Linked DNA regions of Homo sapiens. The protein of the gene in region 1 purifies or fractionates together with the protein of each later gene. This does not show direct contact. Each region holds a gene or a part of one and is shown in the gene's direction. Other genes may lie near its edges.

The links.
Region 2: the proteins of ANKRD26 (region 1) and GOLGA4 fractionate together in Homo sapiens (co-fractionation; one large-scale study listed by BioGRID). This does not show direct contact.
Region 3: the proteins of ANKRD26 (region 1) and HIP1R fractionate together in Homo sapiens (co-fractionation; one large-scale study listed by BioGRID). This does not show direct contact.

What each region holds. Positions count from the first base shown.
Region 1 is NC_000010.11:27,093,856-27,097,504, reverse strand, and holds part of ANKRD26 (ankyrin repeat domain-containing protein 26), read left to right. Parts: intron 1-3,649. UniProt on the Homo sapiens protein: Acts as a regulator of adipogenesis. Involved in the regulation of the feeding behavior.
Region 2 is NC_000003.12:37,323,149-37,326,797, forward strand, and holds part of GOLGA4 (golgin subfamily A member 4), read left to right. Parts: intron 1-439; coding exon 440-3,649. UniProt on the Homo sapiens protein: Involved in vesicular trafficking at the Golgi apparatus level. May play a role in delivery of transport vesicles containing GPI-linked proteins from the trans-Golgi network through its interaction with MACF1. Involved in endosome-to-Golgi trafficking.
Region 3 is NC_000012.12:122,852,351-122,855,999, forward strand, and holds part of HIP1R (huntingtin-interacting protein 1-related protein), read left to right. Parts: intron 1-1,692; coding exon 1,693-1,833; intron 1,834-2,554; coding exon 2,555-2,612; intron 2,613-2,702; coding exon 2,703-2,778; intron 2,779-2,914; coding exon 2,915-3,055; intron 3,056-3,200; coding exon 3,201-3,262; intron 3,263-3,480; coding exon 3,481-3,553; intron 3,554-3,629; coding exon 3,630-3,649. UniProt on the Homo sapiens protein: Component of clathrin-coated pits and vesicles, that may link the endocytic machinery to the actin cytoskeleton. Binds 3-phosphoinositides (via ENTH domain).

The sequences.
Region 1 (3,649 bases):
TATGTAGCAGACATAGTCTACTATCTCTTTTTTCTTTTTTTCTTAGACAGAGTCTCCCTCTGTTGCCCAGGCTGGAGTGCAGTGGCCAGATCTCAGCTTTACTGCAACCTCTGCTTCCTGGGTTCAAGCGATTCTCCTGCCTCAGTCTCCTGAGTAGCTGGGACAGCTAATTTTTTTTTTTTTTTGTATTTCTAGTAGAGACAGGGTTTCACTGTGTTAGCCAGGGTGGTCTCGATCTCCTGACCTTGTGATCTGCCCACCTCGGCCTCCCAAAGTGCTGAGATTACAGGCTTGAGCCACCGCGCCTGGCCTTTTTTGTTTTTGAGGTGAAGTCTCGCTTCTTCGCCCAGGCTGGAGTGCAATGGTGTGATCTCGGCTCAATGCAACATCCATCTCCTGGGTTCAAGCAATTCTCCTGCCTCAGCCTCCCTAGTAGCTGAGATTCCAGGCACGTGCCACCATGCCTGGCTAATTTTTGTATTTTTAGTATAGATGGGGTTCTACCCTGTTGGCCAGGCTGGTCTCAAACTCCTAACCTCAAGTGATCTGCCTGCCTTGGCCTCCCAAAGTGTTGGGATTACAGGCGTGAACCACCGCTAGTTATAAGCATATTAATGTAAGTGCGTAGTATTTTAATAAAATGTGGTAGAATATAGACTTGATCTTTGAATTGGAAACATAACAGTAGTGGACATGAAGATTTGCAGAGCTGATTTTTTTTTCTTTTTTTTTTTTTTTTGAGATGGAGTCTCGCTCTGTCTCCTGGGCTGGAGTGAGTTGGCATGATCTTGGCTCACTGTAACCTTCTCCTCCCAGGTTCAAGCAATTCTCGTGCCTCAGCCTCCCAAACAGCTGGGATTCCAGGCACCCACCACCATGCCTGGCTATTTTTTTTGTATTTTTAGTAGAGACGGGGTTTCACCACGTTGGCCAAGTTGGTCTCAAACTCCTGACCTCAGGTGATCTGCCTGCCTCAGCCTCCCAAAGTGCTGGGATTACAGGCATGAGCCACTGCACCAGGCCAGAGTTGATATCTTTGAAGTGAGGATTTTACTTCTATGCAAATTCTTTTCTGTCAGAGGTGAATCCCTATTTTAGTCATGAATATGATATTTATTCCCCTTTCACAACAGGAACTTCATATATATGTATATAAGTGCTGTGTGGTGTTCTAAACTATTTCAGTCTTGCATTAGCATTGTAATACATAATGTAGCTAATCTGCTATGAATTTGGGAATGCATTTTATGACAAATTTACAGAGCTGTCAGGGAAGATGGAAAGTTGCTGATTTCTCATATAAAACTGTCTTCATAGAGCTTGATGTGAATCTCCTGCACTTCTGGAAGCAGGTATTTAACTCATCCCCAGGAAATCAAGCCTGAGAGAAGTTCTGGTGAGCTGCTTGGCTCCTGTGTTGAGACTGGTCTGGTCTCTTAGCATTTGTTTTGGCAAAGAATGTTTGGATGTTTATAGAGGACAGATGAGAGCTCTGGTCAAGTATGAGAGCTGTTGGTGGGAGGGAGAATCCATTTGGGATCCCATATGAAAAGTCCTGTTAAGGGTGTGAGCAGGCCTTAGAAGAGGGTAATCCAAAGTGGATCTGTGGATTCCTTAGGAGCTAAGAGGAAAGAAAGGCCAGAGTGGAGTGCATTCATTCAGGTCAAGGCAATTGCAGGTGAAAACATAGTCTACTATCTCTCAGGACCTTTCCATCTTCAAAACCTTTATGTTTGCATACCTGCCCAGCCTGAGCAAGTTGAGAGATTTAAAATTAGACTATTAGGGCAATCTCAATTGAAGCTTTTCCTCCCTCCTCTTATTTATTTATTTTTTTGAGAGGAGATTATGCTCTGACACCCAGGCTGGAGTAAAGTGGCATGATCTCGGCTTACTCCAACTCTGCCACCAGGGTTCAAGTGATTCTCCTGCCTCAGCCCCCTCGAGTAGCTGGGATTACAGGCATGTACCACCATGTCCGGCTACTTTTTGTATTTTTAGCAGAGATGGGGTTTTACCATGTTGGTCAGGCTGATCTTGAATTCCTGACCTCAAGTGATCTGCCTGCCTTGGCTTCCCAAAGTGTTGGGATTACAGGCGTGAGCCACTGCACCCAACCCCTCTTTATAAACAAAAGTGTTTCTGAAGGTAGAAAATTATAAGAAATAACCTTTAATTACCCTTTTGAAAATTTATGTCTTAAACACGAATATTAGTCATTGGAAATATCTGCATATATTCTATAAATCTAAATATTGAATAAAATGAGCCAACCTATTCATTTGAATCCTGAGTTTCTTTTGTGTTGAAGTTTCTTGAAAACACAATAAGAATTACTTTGTTTTAAAAATCTGTTTTTCAATTTTAAAAATGCTTCCAATTATAGTTGTAATAAATCATGAATTACAAGTGGCATTCCAATGTCAGAGATATTGAAATGTGAGAAAATGAGCATCTTAGAATCACTGAAATACTGTGTTATCTCTAATTTTTTTTTTTTTTTTGTAGACAGGGTCTCTCTCTGTTGCCCAGGCTAGAGTACAGTGGCACAATCACAGCTCACTACAGCCTCAACCTCCTGGGCTCAAGCGATTCTTTGGCCTTAGCCTCCTGAGTAGCTGGGACCACAGGTGTTCACCACCATGCCTGGCTACTTTTTAAATTTTTATAGAGATGGAGTCTCACTATGTTGCCCAGGCTGGTCTCAAACTCTTGGACTCAAGCAGTCATCCTACCTCAGCTTCCCAAAGTTCTGGGATTCAGGCATGAGCCGCCATGCCTGGCCTTATCGCTGATCTTTAAAACATACTGTCAACTAGGTATAATTGTATCATTTCATTTAATTAAAACATCTTTATTAAACAGTAGTAATGGTAATTATATCTAACAATTATTGAGCTGTTATTTGTGCTAGGAACTGTTCTAAACATTTTGCATAGATTCTCATGTAAGCATCCCAGTGGTGTCCTATGAGATAGCTACTATTTTGATCCCCATTTTATTGATGAGGAAACTGAGGCACTTACTAAGCCATAATGAGTAAGTGACAGCTTAAAGTAGGATTCAACCCCAAGTTGAACTGAATCTAAAGGTCAAGCCTTTTCTATTCAGATAGGTTGCTCTTTCATTAATGTGGTGAGTAGTAAGAGCTAATAAATATTGTACTGTTTTCAGAAGAAAATTAAATACTTGTTTTGAAGGCGGAGGATTAACATGTGTATTAGTCTGTTCTCATGCTGCTAATAAAGACATACCCTTTATTATATGGGTAATTTATAAAGGAAAGAGGTTTAATTAACTCACAGTTCAGCCTGGTTGGGGAGGCCTCAGGAAACTTAACAATAAGGGCAGAAGGAGAAGCAAACATGTCCTTGACATGGTGTCAGCAAGGAGAAGTGCCAAGCAAAAGAGGGAAAAGCCCCTTAAGAAACCATCAGATATTGTGAGAACTCACTATCACAAGAGCAGCAGCACGGGGGAACCATCCTCGTGATTCAGTTACCTCCCACTGAGTCCCCCTCACCACACGTAGGGATCATGGGAACTACAATTTGGGATTTGGTTGGGGACACAGCCAAGATGAGATTTGGGTGGGGACACAGCCAAACCATATCAACATGCTATTTAATGTTTATAATTTTATGAACCA
Region 2 (3,649 bases), on another chromosome or scaffold:
AGGAGTCTCGCTTTGTTGCCCAGGCTGGAGTGTAGTGGCATGATCTCGGCTCACTGCAGCCTCTGCCTCCTGGGTTCAAGGGATTCCCCAACCTCAGCCTCCCGAGTAGCTGGGACTACAGCCGCATGCTACCATGCCCGGCTAATTTTTGTATGTTTTGGTAGAGACAGGGCTTTGCCATGTTGGTCAGGCTGGGTCTCAAACTCCCGGCTTCAAGTGATCTGCTCACCTCGGCCTCCCAAACTGTTGGACTGTGCCTTGCCATAATCTTTTCTTTGTTATATGATTCCTTTAGTAATTGAGCATAGATTCTTTGTCTTTTCTAGTGTTTGGTATGATAATTTTGATCTTCAGGTAGGTGGTAGACATCATGTCTGTGTATCATTGTTAGTAGACAAGTACGTACTTTAATAAAAATGCATCTGTTTTTAATTAACAGAGAATTCTTGAATTGGAAAGTTCTTTGGAAAAAAGCTTACAAGAAAACAAAAATCAGTCAAAAGATTTGGCTGTTCATCTGGAAGCTGAAAAAAATAAGCACAATAAGGAGATTACAGTCATGGTTGAAAAACACAAGACAGAATTGGAAAGCCTTAAGCATCAGCAGGATGCCCTTTGGACTGAAAAACTCCAAGTCTTAAAGCAACAATATCAGACTGAAATGGAAAAACTTAGGGAAAAGTGTGAACAAGAAAAAGAAACATTGTTGAAAGACAAAGAGATTATCTTCCAGGCCCACATAGAAGAAATGAATGAAAAGACTTTAGAAAAGCTTGATGTGAAGCAAACAGAACTAGAATCATTATCTTCTGAACTGTCAGAAGTATTAAAAGCCCGTCACAAACTAGAAGAGGAACTTTCTGTTCTGAAAGATCAAACAGATAAAATGAAGCAGGAATTAGAGGCCAAGATGGATGAACAGAAAAATCATCACCAGCAGCAAGTTGACAGTATCATTAAAGAACACGAGGTATCTATCCAGAGGACTGAGAAGGCATTAAAAGATCAAATTAATCAACTTGAGCTTCTCTTGAAGGAAAGGGACAAGCATTTGAAAGAGCATCAGGCTCATGTAGAAAATTTAGAGGCAGATATTAAAAGGTCTGAAGGGGAACTCCAGCAGGCATCTGCTAAGCTGGACGTTTTTCAGTCTTACCAGAGTGCCACACATGAGCAGACAAAAGCATATGAGGAACAGTTGGCCCAATTGCAGCAGAAGTTGTTGGATTTGGAAACAGAAAGAATTCTTCTTACCAAACAGGTTGCTGAAGTTGAAGCACAAAAGAAAGATGTTTGTACTGAGTTAGATGCTCACAAAATCCAGGTGCAGGACTTAATGCAGCAACTTGAAAAACAAAATAGTGAAATGGAGCAAAAAGTAAAATCTTTAACCCAAGTCTATGAGTCCAAACTTGAAGATGGTAACAAAGAACAGGAACAGACAAAGCAAATCTTGGTGGAAAAGGAAAATATGATTTTACAAATGAGAGAAGGACAGAAGAAAGAAATTGAGATACTCACACAGAAATTGTCAGCCAAGGAGGACAGTATTCATATTTTGAATGAGGAATATGAAACCAAATTTAAAAACCAAGAAAAAAAGATGGAAAAAGTTAAGCAGAAAGCAAAGGAGATGCAAGAAACGTTAAAGAAAAAATTACTGGATCAGGAAGCCAAACTTAAGAAAGAGCTTGAAAATACTGCTCTAGAGCTTAGTCAGAAAGAAAAACAGTTTAATGCCAAAATGCTGGAAATGGCACAGGCTAACTCAGCTGGAATCAGTGATGCAGTGTCAAGACTGGAAACAAACCAAAAAGAACAAATAGAAAGTCTTACTGAGGTTCATCGACGAGAACTCAATGATGTCATATCAATCTGGGAAAAGAAACTTAATCAGCAAGCTGAAGAACTTCAGGAAATACATGAAATCCAATTACAGGAAAAAGAACAAGAGGTAGCAGAACTGAAACAAAAGATCCTCCTATTTGGGTGTGAAAAAGAAGAGATGAACAAGGAAATAACATGGCTGAAGGAAGAAGGTGTTAAGCAGGATACAACATTAAATGAATTACAGGAACAGTTAAAGCAGAAGTCTGCCCATGTGAATTCTCTTGCACAAGATGAAACTAAACTGAAAGCTCATCTTGAAAAGCTAGAGGTTGACTTGAATAAGTCTCTGAAGGAAAATACTTTTCTTCAAGAGCAGCTAGTTGAACTGAAGATGCTGGCAGAAGAAGATAAGCGGAAGGTTTCTGAGTTGACTAGCAAGTTGAAAACCACAGATGAAGAATTCCAGAGTTTGAAATCTTCACATGAAAAAAGTAACAAAAGCCTAGAGGACAAGAGCTTGGAATTTAAAAAACTGTCTGAGGAACTAGCGATTCAGCTAGATATTTGCTGTAAGAAAACCGAAGCCTTATTAGAAGCTAAAACAAATGAGCTAATCAACATTAGTAGTAGTAAAACTAATGCCATTCTTTCTAGGATTTCTCATTGTCAGCACCGTACAACTAAAGTTAAGGAGGCACTGTTAATTAAAACTTGCACAGTTTCTGAATTAGAAGCACAACTTAGACAGTTGACAGAGGAGCAAAATACACTAAATATTTCTTTTCAACAGGCTACTCATCAGTTAGAAGAAAAAGAAAATCAAATTAAGAGCATGAAGGCTGATATTGAAAGTCTTGTAACAGAAAAAGAAGCCTTACAGAAGGAAGGAGGCAATCAGCAACAGGCTGCTTCTGAAAAGGAGTCTTGTATAACACAGTTGAAGAAAGAGTTATCTGAAAACATCAATGCTGTCACATTGATGAAAGAAGAGCTTAAAGAAAAAAAAGTTGAGATTAGCAGTCTTAGTAAACAACTAACTGATTTGAATGTTCAGCTTCAAAATAGCATCAGCCTATCCGAAAAAGAAGCAGCCATTTCATCACTAAGAAAGCAGTATGATGAAGAAAAATGTGAATTGCTGGATCAGGTGCAAGATTTATCTTTTAAAGTTGACACTCTGAGTAAAGAGAAAATTTCTGCTCTTGAGCAGGTAGATGACTGGTCCAATAAATTCTCAGAATGGAAGAAGAAAGCACAGTCAAGATTTACACAGCATCAAAACACTGTTAAAGAATTGCAGATCCAGCTTGAGTTAAAATCAAAGGAAGCTTATGAAAAGGATGAGCAGATAAATTTATTGAAGGAAGAGCTTGATCAGCAAAATAAAAGATTTGATTGTTTAAAGGGTGAAATGGAAGACGACAAGAGCAAGATGGAGAAAAAGGAGTCTAATTTAGAAACAGAGTTAAAGTCTCAAACAGCAAGAATTATGGAATTAGAGGACCATATTACCCAGAAAACTATTGAAATAGAGTCCTTAAATGAAGTTCTTAAAAATTACAATCAACAAAAGGATATTGAACACAAAGAATTGGTTCAGAAACTTCAACATTTTCAAGAGTTAGGAGAAGAAAAGGACAACAGGGTTAAAGAAGCTGAAGAAAAAATCTTAACACTTGAAAACCAAGTTTATTCCATGAAAGCTGAACTTGAAACTAAGAAGAAAGAATTAGAACATGTGAATTTAAGTGTGAAAAGCAAAGAGGAGGAGTTAAAGGCATTGGAAGATAGGCTTGAGTCAGAAAGTGCTGCAAAATTA
Region 3 (3,649 bases), on another chromosome or scaffold:
GCCCCAACTGTGCAGCAGGACAGGGCTACCAGGCTCTGTGTCCTGGCAGAGATGTGCTGAGCCTGAGCCTCTCAGCACAGAGCCCACCAGGTAGGAGCCAGTTACCCCTGGCATGGGAGAAGGCCAGTGTGGGCAGGCAGTGGCCCCACGAGGGAAGTGGAGAACACTCACAGGCACGCTTCCCACCTGGTGACGCTGGTGTGTTGATGAAGCACAAATGGGGTGTACCAGCATCTGCTGGAGAAATTCCCAGATCTGCAGAGGTGACAGGTACAGGGGCTTCCCTGCCTCAGGACCTGTAACAGCAAAGAAACACAAACGTCCTAAACATGCCTCAGCAGAGGCTGCGTCTCGCTGTCTGTGCAGAGCAGAGAACGGAGGGTGGTGGGAAGAGAGATGTGTCGAATCTGGGATGGCCGGGAAGATCTAGAAAACATTCTACTGTGTGAAATCAAGCAGATTGCCGAACAGCATGGACATACGTGTTGAAGATCCAAGCAGTACTTTATGTGTGCTGTAATTTTTTGCAAGGAAAACATACTTAGCATGACATGTAATTAGAGATTACTTTTTTAAAAAGGCAAGGGGCGGCACTTTGTGTCTTCCTTCTTGCCCCTCCCCCCCAGGCTCTCTCCTGTCACTGCAGAGATTTGCAAGTGGTCCCATCACAGGCAAGGCAGGAGCAGGACCTGAGGGGCCAGGGCACAGGTCTGTGCAGCGGGGGCTGTCTGGCCGCTCTCCCGTGCTGGCCAGCTGCCTGCTCTTTGTCATTCTCTCTGCCCCAGAGAAGCTGCCAGCCAAGGAGGAGGCAGCCTCATGTTTGTCCTTTGTCCCTCCCACTTGGTAGTTCTGATACAAGGCCCGATTGTCAGGGGCAGGGGAGACGGGCCCTGGGGGTGTCAGGGGCAGGGGAGACGGGCCCTGGGGGTGTCAGGGGCAGGGGAGACGGGCCCTGGGGGTGTCAGGGGCAGGGGAGACGGGCCCTGGGGGTGTCAGGGGCAGGGGAGACGGGCCCTGGGGGTGTCAGGGGCAGGGGAGACGGGCCCTGGGGGTGTCAGGGGCAGGGGAGACGGGCCCTGGGGGTGTCAGGGGCAGGGGAGACGGGCCCTGGGGGTGTCAGGGGCAGGGGAGACGGGCCCTGGGGGTGTCAGGGGCAGGGGAGACGGGCCCTGGGGGTGTCAGGGGCAGGGGAGATGGGCCCTGGGGGCAAGCGAGGTTTCAGGGTCACTTGGGGTGTGCAGAGCCAAGCTGTGACCCTAGTGCCGTGTTACTTGGCAGAAGCCCTGCCTGTTCCCACATCTGTAAAGTTAGGCATTTGGGGTGCTCCATCGTGAGCCTCCTTCCTGCTCTAACATTCAGCGTGGGTTTGAGGCCCGTGGGCATGGAGCTATCCGTCACCCTTGTCAGTCGGGCACCTCGTCCTGGGCTCCCAGGTGGAGGTCTCTGGAAGCCCTTGCTGAGCTGGGCTGGGAGCTCCTTTGCCCTGACCTTGTTGTTGCCGTTGACCTCCTTCATGGGAGCATCTGGTCTTGACCTGGGGCAGCCACCAGCACATGAGGCTCCCGTCTTGGAGGCAGGGGGCACACTGGTGTGTGGGAGCTGGCTTAGGGCCCTGCTTCACAGTTGGACCACCTTGGACAGGTTGCCCAGCTCCCAAGGGCTCACGTTCTTCCTCCTGCCCCTTTTGCACAGTTTTCCGACAGCTCAACACGGCCATCGCCGTATCCCAGATGTCCTCAGGCCAGTGCCGCCTGGCCCCCCTCATCCAGGTCATCCAGGACTGCAGCCACCTCTACCACTACACGGTCAAGCTCCTGTTCAAGCTACACTCTTGTGAGTGGCCCAGGGCAACCCCTGGCCCGGAAGGCTGTGTTTATATGGCTTAGACATTCACTGTCAAAAAGGAAAATCGAAAAATTAGAGGTTTATTCATTTAAAAATGGCAGTAATAAACCCACTGCCCATTAATAGAAATAACATATATTTTATGAAAAAAAAAAAAAAAAAACCCACTACTTTACCAAGCAAAAAACTTAGTGAGTGGCTTGGTTTTCATTTTTACGACTAAATGCCTGGCTCGGCCAAGACGGAGGCCCCAGCTGCTCCCAGGAATCTCCCGCCAGGCACCCTGGGGGTGCAAGCGCAAAAAGGCAAAAGGTGTCTGGGGTGTTAGGAGAGTTTTGATCTAACCAACCCCTTGAAAGGGTCTCGTCCCTCGACCGCACTTTGAGAACCACTGTGTTAGTGTCAGCCTGGGACCAACGTGTTTGGTGAAAGCGGCTTGCTAGTGCCTCCCGAAGCCAGGTGTGGGTTAGGTGAGATGTGGCCGCAGCGCCTTCCTTTCCATTCGCTGTTTCCTTCTCTAGCTCAGTCTGAACTGAGCCCTCCCACAGCGTCTCCCACAGGTCTCCCCATCCCGATGGGAGAGCGGGCCTGGCCCGGTCTCAGGTGATCTCTGATCTGTGAGTTTGTAGCATACGGAGGAACAAGGCAGGGCAGGTGAGCCCCTGAGCAGTGTGCAGAGAAGTCCTGTTACACTTGTGCCACCCTCCAGGTCTCCCTGCGGACACCCTGCAAGGCCACAGGGACCGGTTCCACGAGCAGTTTCACAGGTACTGCCTGGGACAGGGACAGGATTGAGGCCGGTGGGGGAGAGGCTCCGTGGCCCCTTCCTGAACCCGAACTTCCCACCATCTCTGCAGCCTCAGGAACTTCTTCCGCAGAGCCTCCGACATGCTGTACTTCAAGCGGCTCATCCAGATCCCCCGGCTGCCCGAGGTACCACCCCCAAGAGGGCCCCGAGGCCCTTTGAGGACCCCAGGCACCTGGCTGGGCCCCACACAGGCTATGGAGATGGCGGAAGGAGGGCTTGCTTAGGGGACAGCTGAGCAGGTCCCACCTGCCGCCCCTGCAGGGACCCCCTAACTTCCTGCGGGCCTCAGCCCTGGCTGAGCACATCAAGCCGGTGGTGGTGATCCCCGAGGAGGCCCCGGAAGATGAGGAGCCGGAGAATCTCATTGAGATCAGCACAGGGCCCCCCGCGGGGGAGCCAGTGGTGAGCCCCCTGCCCAGCCCGTGTCCCCCAGTCCTCCAGCTGCAGCATGAGGCCAACGGGAGTGTCGGGTGGCCAGCCCTCCCTTTGCCCACTGCCCGGCCTGGAGGGCACAGGTGAGTGGGGTCACCATGCTTTGCTGTGGCAGGTGGTGGCTGACCTCTTCGATCAGACGTTTGGACCCCCCAATGGGTCTGTGAAGGACGACAGGTGAGGGCTGGAGGAGCCGACTGGGCTGGGGGTGGTTGGAAACGGGCTCAGCTGAGCTGTGCTCTGGACAGTTCTGTCTGGAAAGGCCATAGGTGGGGAACATGAACCCGTGAGGTGCCCAAATCCTGAGTGGCCACTGAGGAGGAGACAGGTTCCTGTGCTGGGTCTGTTGACTGTTCTGGTTGACTTAACTTGAACCCCAGGACCTCTGTCCCCAGGGACCTCCAGATTGAGAGCTTGAAGAGAGAGGTGGAAATGCTCCGCTCTGAACTGGAGAAGATCAAGCTGGAGGTGCGGGGTGGGGATGGGTGGGGGCCAGGGCCCCTCACGGCCCAGGCAGGGCCCCACGTCACACCTCCTCCCGCAGGCCCAGCGGTACATCGCGCA